Linked DNA regions of Homo sapiens: region 1 is linked to region 2. The links come from fine-mapping of genetic effects on gene expression. A gene starts in region 2. The other region holds a variant in brackets. All regions are shown on one strand. Distances are between the middles of the regions.

Evidence for each region. PIP is the estimated chance that this variant, and not a neighbour inherited with it, causes the effect. A credible set is the group of variants that fine-mapping cannot tell apart.
Region 1: its variant is the best candidate, but not a certain one, in a credible set for the expression of SLC29A1 in aorta (GTEx, PIP 0.85).

Annotation. Positions count from the first base shown.
Region 1 is chr6:44,196,725-44,202,092 of GRCh38, reverse strand. It overlaps a transcript of MYMX not described here. Among named protein-coding and RNA genes, the nearest start is that of MYMX, 18 kb to the left of the region's middle. RefSeq lists enhancers at 1-539, 540-1,540. The variant T/C (reference allele first, on the strand shown) is at 3,188.
Region 2 is chr6:44,221,526-44,226,893 of GRCh38, reverse strand. It overlaps SLC29A1 (solute carrier family 29 member 1 (Augustine blood group)), which reads right to left and starts at 3,299. Exons shown (of 13, transcript NM_001372327.1): 1 at 3,253-3,299. RefSeq lists enhancers at 1-73, 2,220-2,369, 2,612-3,470 and a silencer at 3,060-3,459.

The DNA.
Region 1 (5,368 bases), 25 kb after region 2:
GTCCTGCTCTTCCCACCCCTTCTGCATGTCTCCACCCAGGCGCTCAAGAGCATGCTGCGACAGGCCACTGCCTCCGCATGACTTGCATTAAAAACATGTGTCTGGGTCCCAGCTCGTGAAGTTGGCTGGAGGTGCTTCTGAGTTGGTCGCTCTGGAACCACATGCTGGCTCTGGGACCCTCTCTCAGGGCCCCTCTGGATGCCAGAGCAGGCTGTATATTGCACAGCGGGAGTTGAGAGTGGCACCTTCCGGAGCTGTGCTATGGGGTGGTCCCCCTCCCTAAAATGGGAATTATAATAATACCTACAGCTGACCAGATAAAGAGATGAGGAGAATGTGAGGCTCAGAGTTTGGCTACCAGGTAGGTGTCTCATAAATATTAGTTTCCTTCCTTCCACCCTTATGTCAGAGGCCAGCAGAGAACTTGCTGCTCCTTGGAGGCCTGATGCAAGGCACCCTGCTGCTCATGGGCAGCACTTAGATCAGAGGCTGGGGCTCTGTTAATGCTTGAAGAATCAAGGGAGGCCTGCGGAGGCTGTGGCCCCTCGCTCTGTCATGTTTCACTGGCCTGTTGTCCTCTGGGAAATCAGCATTGGTGTGGGGCCCTTCCTGTTTGTGGGAGGTTGAGGACAGCTCTGACCCCTAAACAAGGAGTTCTGACAAGGAGCCAGGGAGGCCTCATCAAGGGCAGGGTGTGTCAAGGGGTGATGTTACCAAGGAGCAGGTGGGGAGACCTTGGGGCCAGGAACCAGAGCCAGCCAGGTATAGGCAGTGTGGGTGGGGAATGGGCGGAGTTCTAGCCCAGGAACTGGGAGCTCAGCCCTGTCATAATCACAGTGCCTTTCTGCCTGGGACAACAGGCCAGAAACCACCTACCTGAGTGAGGAGCTAGGGCCTGAATGTGACCACTGAAAGAAGAGGTGATGCGCTTTGGAGGGATGGTCCCTTATCCATGACCATCATTCCTCTGCCCACCAATTCCAGGCAATGATAGACCCATGCACAGGCGACCGGGCAGTGGGACACACACTGGATATGCCTGTAAGACATGAGCAAAATGGGCCAGGGAGTTGGAGGTTGCCTGAAAGAGTAGCTAGCACAGACAGATGGGACTCCCCAATCCACAAGAACAGTTGTTCTAGCCAGGGAGGAGGAGGTGGCCCAGGAAAGGAGCTTGTATAGAATACAGCCATTGTCCCCACTGCAACAGCTGTTGCCCACTGCCCCCCACCCCCCACTCAGCTGACAGGACCCTGAGGGTGGGAGGTGGGGGCCCTACCCTCTCTGGCAATGCCTCAGAGGGAACAGTCAGTTGTTGGGGCAGGAGACAGCTGTTTCCTGGACAGTGAGAGGGATGAGGGTGGACAGAGGAGCTTGAGGAGAAGGTAAGGAAGGACATGCCTAGCATATCTGATGTGGGGAGGGAGAGCAGCAAAAACCACAATGCCACAGGGAAAAAAATCTAATAAAAACCTGATGGCCAGGCGCGATGGCTCACGCCTGTAATCCCAGCACTTTGGGAGGCTGAGGCAGATGGATCACCTGAGGTCAGGAATTTGAGACCAGCCTGACCAACAAGGTAAAACACCATCTCTACTAAAAATGCAAAAATTAGCCAGGTGTGGTGGCAGGCGCCTGTAGTCCCAGCTACTTGGGAGGCTGAGACAGGAGAATTGCTTGAACCCGGGAGGTAGAAGTTGCAGTGAGCCCAGATCGTGCCACTGCACTCCAACCTGGGTGACAGAGCAAGACTCTGTCTAAAAATAAAAAATAAAATAAAATAAAAAAAACTAGGCAAGACCCCAGTGGAGAAACAAATTTTTTATGGAGAAACCAAAAAAGAAGACCTAAATATTTGAATATTTGAGTGAATGAGGCAAGGTAATGGTCAGTAAAGTATTATGTTATAATTTTTTTTTTTTAAGAGGTAGGCTCTTCCTCTGTCTCCCAGGCCTGGAGTGCAGTGGCACAATCATAGCTCACTGTAGCCTTGACCTCCTAAGTTCAAGCAATCCTCCCACATCAATCTCCTGAGTAGCCGGGACTACAGGAACAGGCTACCATGAGCCACTGTGCCTGGCTATAATTGTTATAAAGATGTTAGTTCTGACCGGGCACGGTGGCTCATGCCTGTAATCCCAACACTTTAGGAGGCCAAGACGCTTGGATTGCTTGAGCCCAGAAGTTTGAGACCAGCCTGGGTAACATGGCAAAACCCAGTCTCTACCAAAAAATACAAAAATTAGCCAGACATGATGGCTTACTCCTATAGTCTCAGCTACTTGGGAGGCTGAGGTGGGAGGATGGCTTGAGCCCGGGAGATTGAGGCTGCAGCGAACAGTGATCATGCCACTGGACTCCAGCCTGGGTGGCAGAGAGAGACTGTCTCAAAAAAAAAAAAATTAGTTCTCCCCCAAATTAATTAGAAATTCAATGCAACTCTGACCAAGAATCCACCAATCTGTGTTTTTTGTCTTTCTGGAAGCTGATTGTAAAATTTATATGGGAGTCTCAAAAAAGAATAAAATAAAATTTATATGGGAAAAAAAGACCAAGAATAACCAAGTTAATGCTGAAGAAGAAAAAGAAGAGGGGGGCCAGGCGTGGGGGCTCACGCCTGTAATCCCAGCACTTTGGGAGGCCGAGGCAGGCAGTTCACTTGAGCCGAGGAGTTCGAGATCAGCCTGGGCAACATGATGAAACTGTCTCTACTAAAAATACAAAAGAAAATTAGGGGGCACAGTGGCACACACCTGTAGTCCCAGCTACTCGGGAGGCTGAGGTGGGAGGATCACCTGAGCCTGGGAAGTCTAGACTACAGTGAACCATGATAGCACCACTGTACTCCAGCCTGGGTGACTGGAGTGAGATCCTGTCTCTAAAATAAATAATGAAAGAAAGATAACAAAAATAAGAGGGCACTAGCCCTATAGATACCAATCTGGCCAATCTGGTAATATGGGAATGAAAACAGTGTGGCAAAATGCAAGAATAGACACAGTGACTAAGGAACAGAATAGAGAGATTAGAAACAGATCCAAGAACATGTAGGGGAGAGGGGGAATTGCTGGTCAGTGAAGGGACAAAAATGGTCAGAAATAGGGCTGGAACAGTTGGCCATCCCCAAAAGGAAAAATAAGATTTGATCCTCTGGCACATCAATTACAAAAATAAATTCTGGGCCAGG[T/C]GTAGTTACTCACGCCTGTAATCCCAGTATGTCTGGAGGCCAAGGACAGATCACTTGAGGTCAGGAGTTTGAGACCAGCCTGACCAACATGGAAAAACCCTGTCTCTCCTAAAAATACAAAAATTAGCTGAGCATGGTGGTGCACGCCTGTAATCCAGCCTGGGCGACAGACCAAAACTTAAAAAAAAAAAAAAATTCTGGTGGCATTAGAGATCTAAATGTATAAAGTCAAACTATAAAATATAGGCACTGGTGCCTGTAATCCCAGCTACTGGGGAGGCTGAGGTGGGAGAACTGCTTGAACCTGGAAGGTGGAGTTTGCAGTGAGCTGAGATTGCGCCACTGCACTCCAGCCTGGGCAACAGAGCAAGACTGTCAAAAAAATAAATAAGTAAATAAATTAAATTAAATATAGGCACAGATCTTTAGGAATTTGGGATAGGCCAGGCACGGTGGCTCACGCCTGTAATCCCAGCACTTTGGGAGGCCGAGGCGGGTAGATCACGAGGTCAGGAGATCGAGACCATCCTGGCTAACACGGTGAAACCCCATCTCTACTAAAAATATAAAAAATTAGCCGGGCGTGGTAGTGGCGGGCACCTGTAGTCCCAGCTACTCGGGAGGCTGAGGCAGGAGAATGGCATGAACCCAGGAGGCGGAGGTTGCAGTGAGCCGAGATCGCACCACTGCACTCCAGCCTGGGTGACAGAGCGAGACTCTATCTCAAAAAAAAAAAAAAAAAAAAAAAAAAGAGGAATTTGGGATAGTAGAGAATTATGTGTTGTATAGATTCTTACAAACTTTTTGTTATGGCAATTTTTTAAATTATGAGAATAGTATAATAAACTCCTATGCATGAGCCACCTAGCTTCAATAGTAAGTTGAGATCTTTTGATACTACAAAAGATACTACAAAGTGAAAAGACAATCCCCCGCAGGCTGGAAGGAGATATTTGCAGTCCATATAATTGAAAAAGATTTAGTATCAATTACAAGTAACATACTTTTATAATCAATAGGGCCAGGAGTGGTAGTTCACCCCTGTAATCCCAGCATTTTGGGAGGGTGATGCAGGAGGATCACTTGATCCCAGGAGTTCAAGGCCAACCTGGGCAACATAGTGAGGCCCTGTCTTTATTAAAACATAATATAATATAATCAATAAGAAAATGACAGAAAAAGAAACAAAGGATCAGAGGTGGCAATCTCCTGAAACATGAGTAAGTAATCCATAAATGTGAAAAGCTAGTTATCCCTGACAATGGAGAACTGCAAACTATACCCAGAAAGAGTTACCACATCATACTCCTGAGAAGTGGCAAGTCATAGGGTACTGGAAGGAGAGGTGGTGCTTTTTTGTTGTTTGTTTTTTTGAGACGGAGTCTCACTCTGTCACCCAGGCTGGAGTGCAGTGGCATGATCTCAGCTCACTGCAACCTCCGCCTCCTGGGTTCAAGCGACTCTTCTGCCTCAGCCTCCGGAGGAGCTGGCATTACAGGCGTCTGCCACCACACCCAGCTAATTTTTGTATTTTTAGTAGAGATGGGGTTTCACCATGTTGGTCAGGCTGGTCTCGAACTCCTGACCTCAAATGATCCGCCTGCCTCCGCCTCCCAAAGTGCTGGAATTACAGGCGTGAGCCGCCGTGCCCAGCCTGTTTGTTTGTTTTTGAGATGAAGTCTTGCTCTGTCCCCCAGGCTGGAGTACAGTGACTCGATCTCGGCTCACTGCAGCCTCTGCTTCCTGGGTTCAAGTTATTCTCCTGCCTCATCCTCTGGTGTAGCTGGGATTACTGGCTAATTTTTGTATTTTTAGTAGAGATGGCATTTTGCCATGTTGGTCAGGCTAGTCTTGAACTCCTGACCTCAGGTGATTTGCCCTCCTCAGCCTCCCAACATGCTGGGGTTACAGGCATGAGCCACCATGCCCAACCTGTTTGTTTGTTTTGACACGGAGTTTTGCTCTTCTTACCCAGGTTGGAATGCAATGGCGCCATCTCAGCTCACTGCAACCTCCGCCTCCCAGGTTCAAGCGATTCTTCTGCCTCAGCCTCCTGAGCAGCTGGGATTACAGGCATGTGCCACCACATCCAGCTAATTTTGTATTTTTAATAGAGACAGGGTTTCTCCATTTTGGTCAGGCTGGTCTTGAACTCCTGACCTCAAATGATCCGCCCACCTC
Region 2 (5,368 bases):
AAGAGGACGAGAGGGGTCAGGGACAGTGATGACAAGGGAAGGAGGGAGACAAATGGAGGAGACACAGCAAAGAGGTCGGGGGAGGAGGAGGAAGGACACGGAACAGGCAGATCTGCAGCAGCTGCGACAACATCGATGATGACTGAGGTCAAACCAGAGGCTCCCCAGGCCCCTCTCTGCAAGTCTGGTCTCTCCACCCTCCCTGGGGAGCCCCTGGATTCATGGCTAGAGTGGGGCTGTCCTCTCCTGAAGGCAACCCAGATTCCAGTCTCTCTGCTGTTGGCACCTTAACCTTTCTTTCCAGCCACTGCCCAGGGGCTTCCTAGTTGCTGGCCGGTTTTCCAAGAAAATATTTCATAATGGATGTGGGGGCACAGCCCTTCCCCCTCCCCCCTCCCGACCCCAGGGTCACCTAGTCCTCCCTTAGTTCCTCTCTGTCACAGGCTCCTGTCCGCTTCCCCTTTCTAAGAGTGACCTTGAAAAGAAGATTGGAGGGGTGGATCCCAAAGCACCTATCCTTCTGCCTCAGCGTCCCTCTCCTGCTCCCCATTTGTGTAGGGGGAGACCCCCTGGCACCAGCAGATTAAACAGCTTTCCCATTGGGTGGCATGGGAAGCCAGGCAGATGTGCACTGACACATTCCCCACACTCAGGCCTAGCTGGGCCCAGGCCTTGCTGTTTGGGGTGAAAGGACAGCTTCCCTTCCCTCCCTTTCTGGGCACTCACCAGGTGCCCAGACTGGCCAGCAGAAGGGTCAGAGCAGAGCAAGCCTGGGCAGTCCCTAGGAGGTGCTCCTAGTTCAGGCTCAGGCAGTGGGCCTTGTCCACGGGCTCCTGGGTGCGGATCCAGAATGAAAAAGGTGGCACAGGGTGTTATCAGGAGAGAGTCCCTCAGGCTTCATGGGGCCCCATTCTGAGAAGCCTTGCAAGCAAAGAAGCAGAAGCACACCCAGGAGATAAAAAGCCACCCCTGTCGCTCGGGAGATAAGAGAACAGGGAGTCTCAGCAGGGGAGCTCTCGCAGGTGCAGCATTGCTTCTGGCCCCACTCAGACAAACAGAAGCAGCTGGGCACCATGAGACCTTCCACGGGCTCTCCCACCTCCCTGTAGTTCCTCTCAACCCTCCCCAGGGAAACTCCAAGCTCTCAGAGGTCCTCCTCAGCCCCTCAGCCCCACACCTCCAGATAGAGGCAGAAGGATTCCTCCATTCAGGCCTTCGACAAATATTTACTGAGGACCTGTGCATGCTAGCCAGGCACTGTCCTAGGCACGAGGGGTGAATAATCATATTTACATTTTCTAGAGAGATGAAGGCAAGAGGGCATTACTGGAGTGGGGGTGGGGGAAAGCCTCAGGTCTCAGATTTTTTCTTTTTTTTTTTTTTTTTGAGACGGAGTTTTTGCTCCTGTTGCCCAGGCTGGAGTGCAATGGCATGATCTCGGCTCACTGCAAATTCTGCCTCCCAGGTTCAAGTGATTCTCCTGCCTCAGCCTCCCAAGAAGCTGGGAATACAGGCTCCTGCCACCACCCCCGGCTGATTTCTGTATTTTTAGTAGAGACAGGGTTTCACCATGTTGACCAGGCTGGTTTCGAACTCCCGACCTCAGGTGACCCACCCACCTTGGCTTCCCAAAGTGCTGGGATTACAGGCATGAGCCACTGAGCCCTGCCTAGGTCTCAGGTTTTCTATTAGGTAGTAGGGACTCTTCCTCTAGGTTCTTACTTCATACCCGCATACCCCGTACTCCACCCCACAGGCAAGATTCCTGGCAGTTAAGAGCAGGTGTAGCTTCAAAGCAGATGGGGGCCTAGGGTGGGGAGAATAGCTCCTGTTCTCCTGGGTAAAACTGGCTTAGGCTTAGAGAAGAAGTATTTATTTCTTCCCTGGCCCCCTGCTACACCCCTGCTCTCTCTGTTCTCAGGAGTTCCCATACCAGTCTTGGGCACAATTCAACTCCAGCCCTCTCCTCCTGCCCATATCCTAACATTCAGCTGGCCAGCCTTCGTGTTTTGCTTTTGTCTGCCTTTGCCCAGCGGCAAACAGGGATCTGATACCAGCTCAGAGCATCTGGTGTCCCTCCAACTATGCCTTGGCCTGCTGAGGTGGGCCCCTGAAAGTAGCCACCAAATTGAGTACCTCCCTGCCTCCAGACTCCCAACACCTCTCCTGCAATTCTCCACTCCCAGGATTTCATATGGGGCTAGCCACTACCTGCAGATCTCTTGTCTTTTCTTCACAACCACCCATAAGCTAGTACTAGCACTGAATAGATGGGGCCAGCTGAGGTTCAGAGGGGTTGAGTCACTTGCCTGAAGTCACAGAGCTGGTGAGTGGAGGAGCTAGAATCCATATTAAATGTTCAAGCTCCTTTTGGAATGGAGAGAGGTATAAAAGCTGCTTCTCAGTTAGCCCTGTAGACTGGGAGGTGGGGGGAACTCTGATTCAACTAAAGGGAAAAATGAGGTGGAGACCAAGATCATTCCCAGCCTGACTTGAGTGTCAGGCAGCTCAGCCCCGCCCCATCACACACATCCTGGCATGGGGAGCTTACACAAGCAGGAGGAAAGTTGGAGGGTCTGGAGGCCACCGAGAGGAGTAGGCAAAGGGACTACCACAGGGCTGCAGAGAGACCCCTAGAGGTGTGAGGGCAGGGTTGGAGCCAGCCTTGACCTACGACTGCTCTCTCCTGGTAAGCAAAGCCGAGGACTGTTTGTCTTCACCCTCTCATATACCCTCACAGTAAATCAGTAAATGAAGACGTGCGCAGGAAGGAGACGCCAGGGATACGAGTTTAGCCAGTAAAAGACCGGGGTTAAAGAGACAGCCCCGCACCTCCGCTCGCGAGCCTGCACCTCCGCTCGCGAGCCTCCATCCCCATCCCCATCCCCATACCCCTCCGCCAGCGCAGTCAGCGGCACGGCCCCTCCCTGATACCGACCAGATCGATGGGGATCACCCGTCCACTCGCCTGCCCCTTGCGGAGGTCAACGTGACCGCAGCCTGTTTTAGGCCCGGGAGCCAGGCCGCCCCGCCCAGCTTGGGTCCCGGTCCCCGCAGGGTCCTCAGGCTCCCTGGCCCGTGCGCGCCACGTGCTGCGCGGCTCCGCACGCTCCGCACTGGGGCCCCACCCGGCGTCCCTTCTCCGGGCTGCGGAGCCGTCAGGCCCGCCCTCCCTGCCCTCCGTGGCAGGCGGGCAGCGGCGTCTTCCGCCCCGGCAGTCCCCAGTCCCCAGTCCCCGGCCCCGGGCAGCACCTGCCGCAGAAGCACTGCTCCCGCGCTGAGATCCGCGCGCTCTCGCTGCAGCTTCCCTCTCCCGCCGGGGCACATTCAAACCCGCCCTCCGCTGAGCTCGCCCCGCCCTGCGCCCACTGCCACCTCCCCGACGCCCGCGGCCCCGCCCCCGGCCCACCCCTGCCACCCCGCGGCGACTCCGCGCGCTCCGCCGCTCCCACCCCGAGCCCCTGCGCCCCCAGGGCCGCCTGGTCGTGTTATTGCGGTAGATAGGACCTCTTTGGGCCCTGCCACACCAAGGCTGTCTGTCCATCGTGTGGGGTACATGGGGCTGGAGGGTACAGCCACACATTAAGGACCTGCGCAGACTCCCATAAAATTCATCTCGGGACTGTTCCATTTACACACCCGCTGCTCAGACCGGCCCCGACGCTCCACGGCCCACTCCACCTCAGATATTCCGTTATCCCTTCCCAAGCCCTGCCCACGCCGCGCTTCCTCCACACTGCACCTTTTTCCTCCCAGCGCCCTCCCTTTCAGCGCCCCCTTCTTTCTTTCAGTCCCCCTCCTCTTCTTTTCCTTCAAAACTGCTTCTGTCCCCACCGCGCATTTTCTGTGACCAGCATGATGGGTTTTCCCATCCCTGACACATCCAGTCCCAGCCACAGACGCGCAAACACCACCCCACTCACAACTTTGACTTGGAGGGGGTATGTGCCTCTGCCTGTGCTTGCGTGTGCGCGCGGAGGGGGGTGGGGCAAAGCCCTCCAGCTCCCTCATAATTCACCCTTTCTAAATCCAGCACTTTGGAAAACTGAGGCACAGGTGGGAATGGGAAGAGAAAAAGCTAGGAACAGCCTTATATCCTCAGTGAATCCTATTGTCCCAGCCATCCTGACAGGCGGAAGCCTTGCTGAGTATGTCTTTCACTAGCTAAGGAGGAAGGTGTGGGCGTGCTGAGGGGTGGTCCAGCAAGTCCCTCCAAGGGAGGGGGAGGGAGGCCCTCTCTTTGGTCGGGCAATAAATGGGGTGGGGTGGGGGGCACTCCCTGCCCTTCCAGCAGTACTCAGTGCTAGAGGATGATCCTAAGGCTGGAAAGGTCCTGAGGAGAAAATCCAACCCACGCTGCCCACCCCATGCCCACTGACCCGAAGGGCTTGTCCCCTAGAGAAGCCACAGACACTGATTAACAACTGGCAGTACCTCACATCATAGGGATAAGGTAGTCCTACCCTGTCCCCAGAGAAACAGACAGGGCCCTAAGGAGAGAGGTGGCTTTTCTAATTAGGGTCAGTGGCTCTCCCCAAGCTACTCCAGAATGGGTGTCCCCAGCCTTCTGTTTCCATGCCCCACAGAGATGACACACATATTCCTTCCCAACCCTCCCCCACCCCACCCCCATCCCCCACATCCCCGCCAGCCCTAACCAGAGGGCAGGAAGATGGGTTTAGGTGGTATTTTTCCAGGCACAGCCCCATGACTTGAGAGTGGCTTCATGTCTGTCCACAACCCCCTAATTCCTGCCCTCATGTTTGTCCAGTCTCTCTCTCTTCCTCTCCTAGCCCTCCTCTGCCCTCTGCCTTGGCCCCCTTCCTCGCTCCCCACCCTCCTTTCCTGGTCTCTGGGTCTGTGGGGGTGGCAGGGCTAGTGGTCAGAAGATCTGCCAGGCATGGCAAGGCTGGTGGCCAGTGGCTGCAGTTGTGTACAGAGGGGGCTGGAGGTGGAAGAAAACTGGAGGGAAGTGGTGAGGGTCTCAGGCCAGACTGGGAAAGGCTGGTTCCTCTCCCCACCCAAACTGGGGCCCTGCCAGCTCGGTGGATGGCAACAGCCAGGGCTGTTATTGTTGGAGAGAAGTCCGTCTGGCATCCATCCTGCTGGGCCCCTAGCCAACACCCACACCCCTCTGTAGCCACCTCCCAAGCAGAGGTTGCTGGGTGCCAGGGCCCCCTGCTGGACAGCCTGGGAGCCCCAACTTACACAGGCCTTGCCTGGAGTTTTTCTAGCCAGGCCTTGCCAGCTCTCTTCAGTCTCTGCCTGGTCTTCTGGCTTCTCTCCCTCCCTGAGCTCCCTCAGGTCCCTGTCGAAGGGGTGGGGTGGGAAGGGTTGGTCCTGCTGCACCTCTACTCTACACCTTATT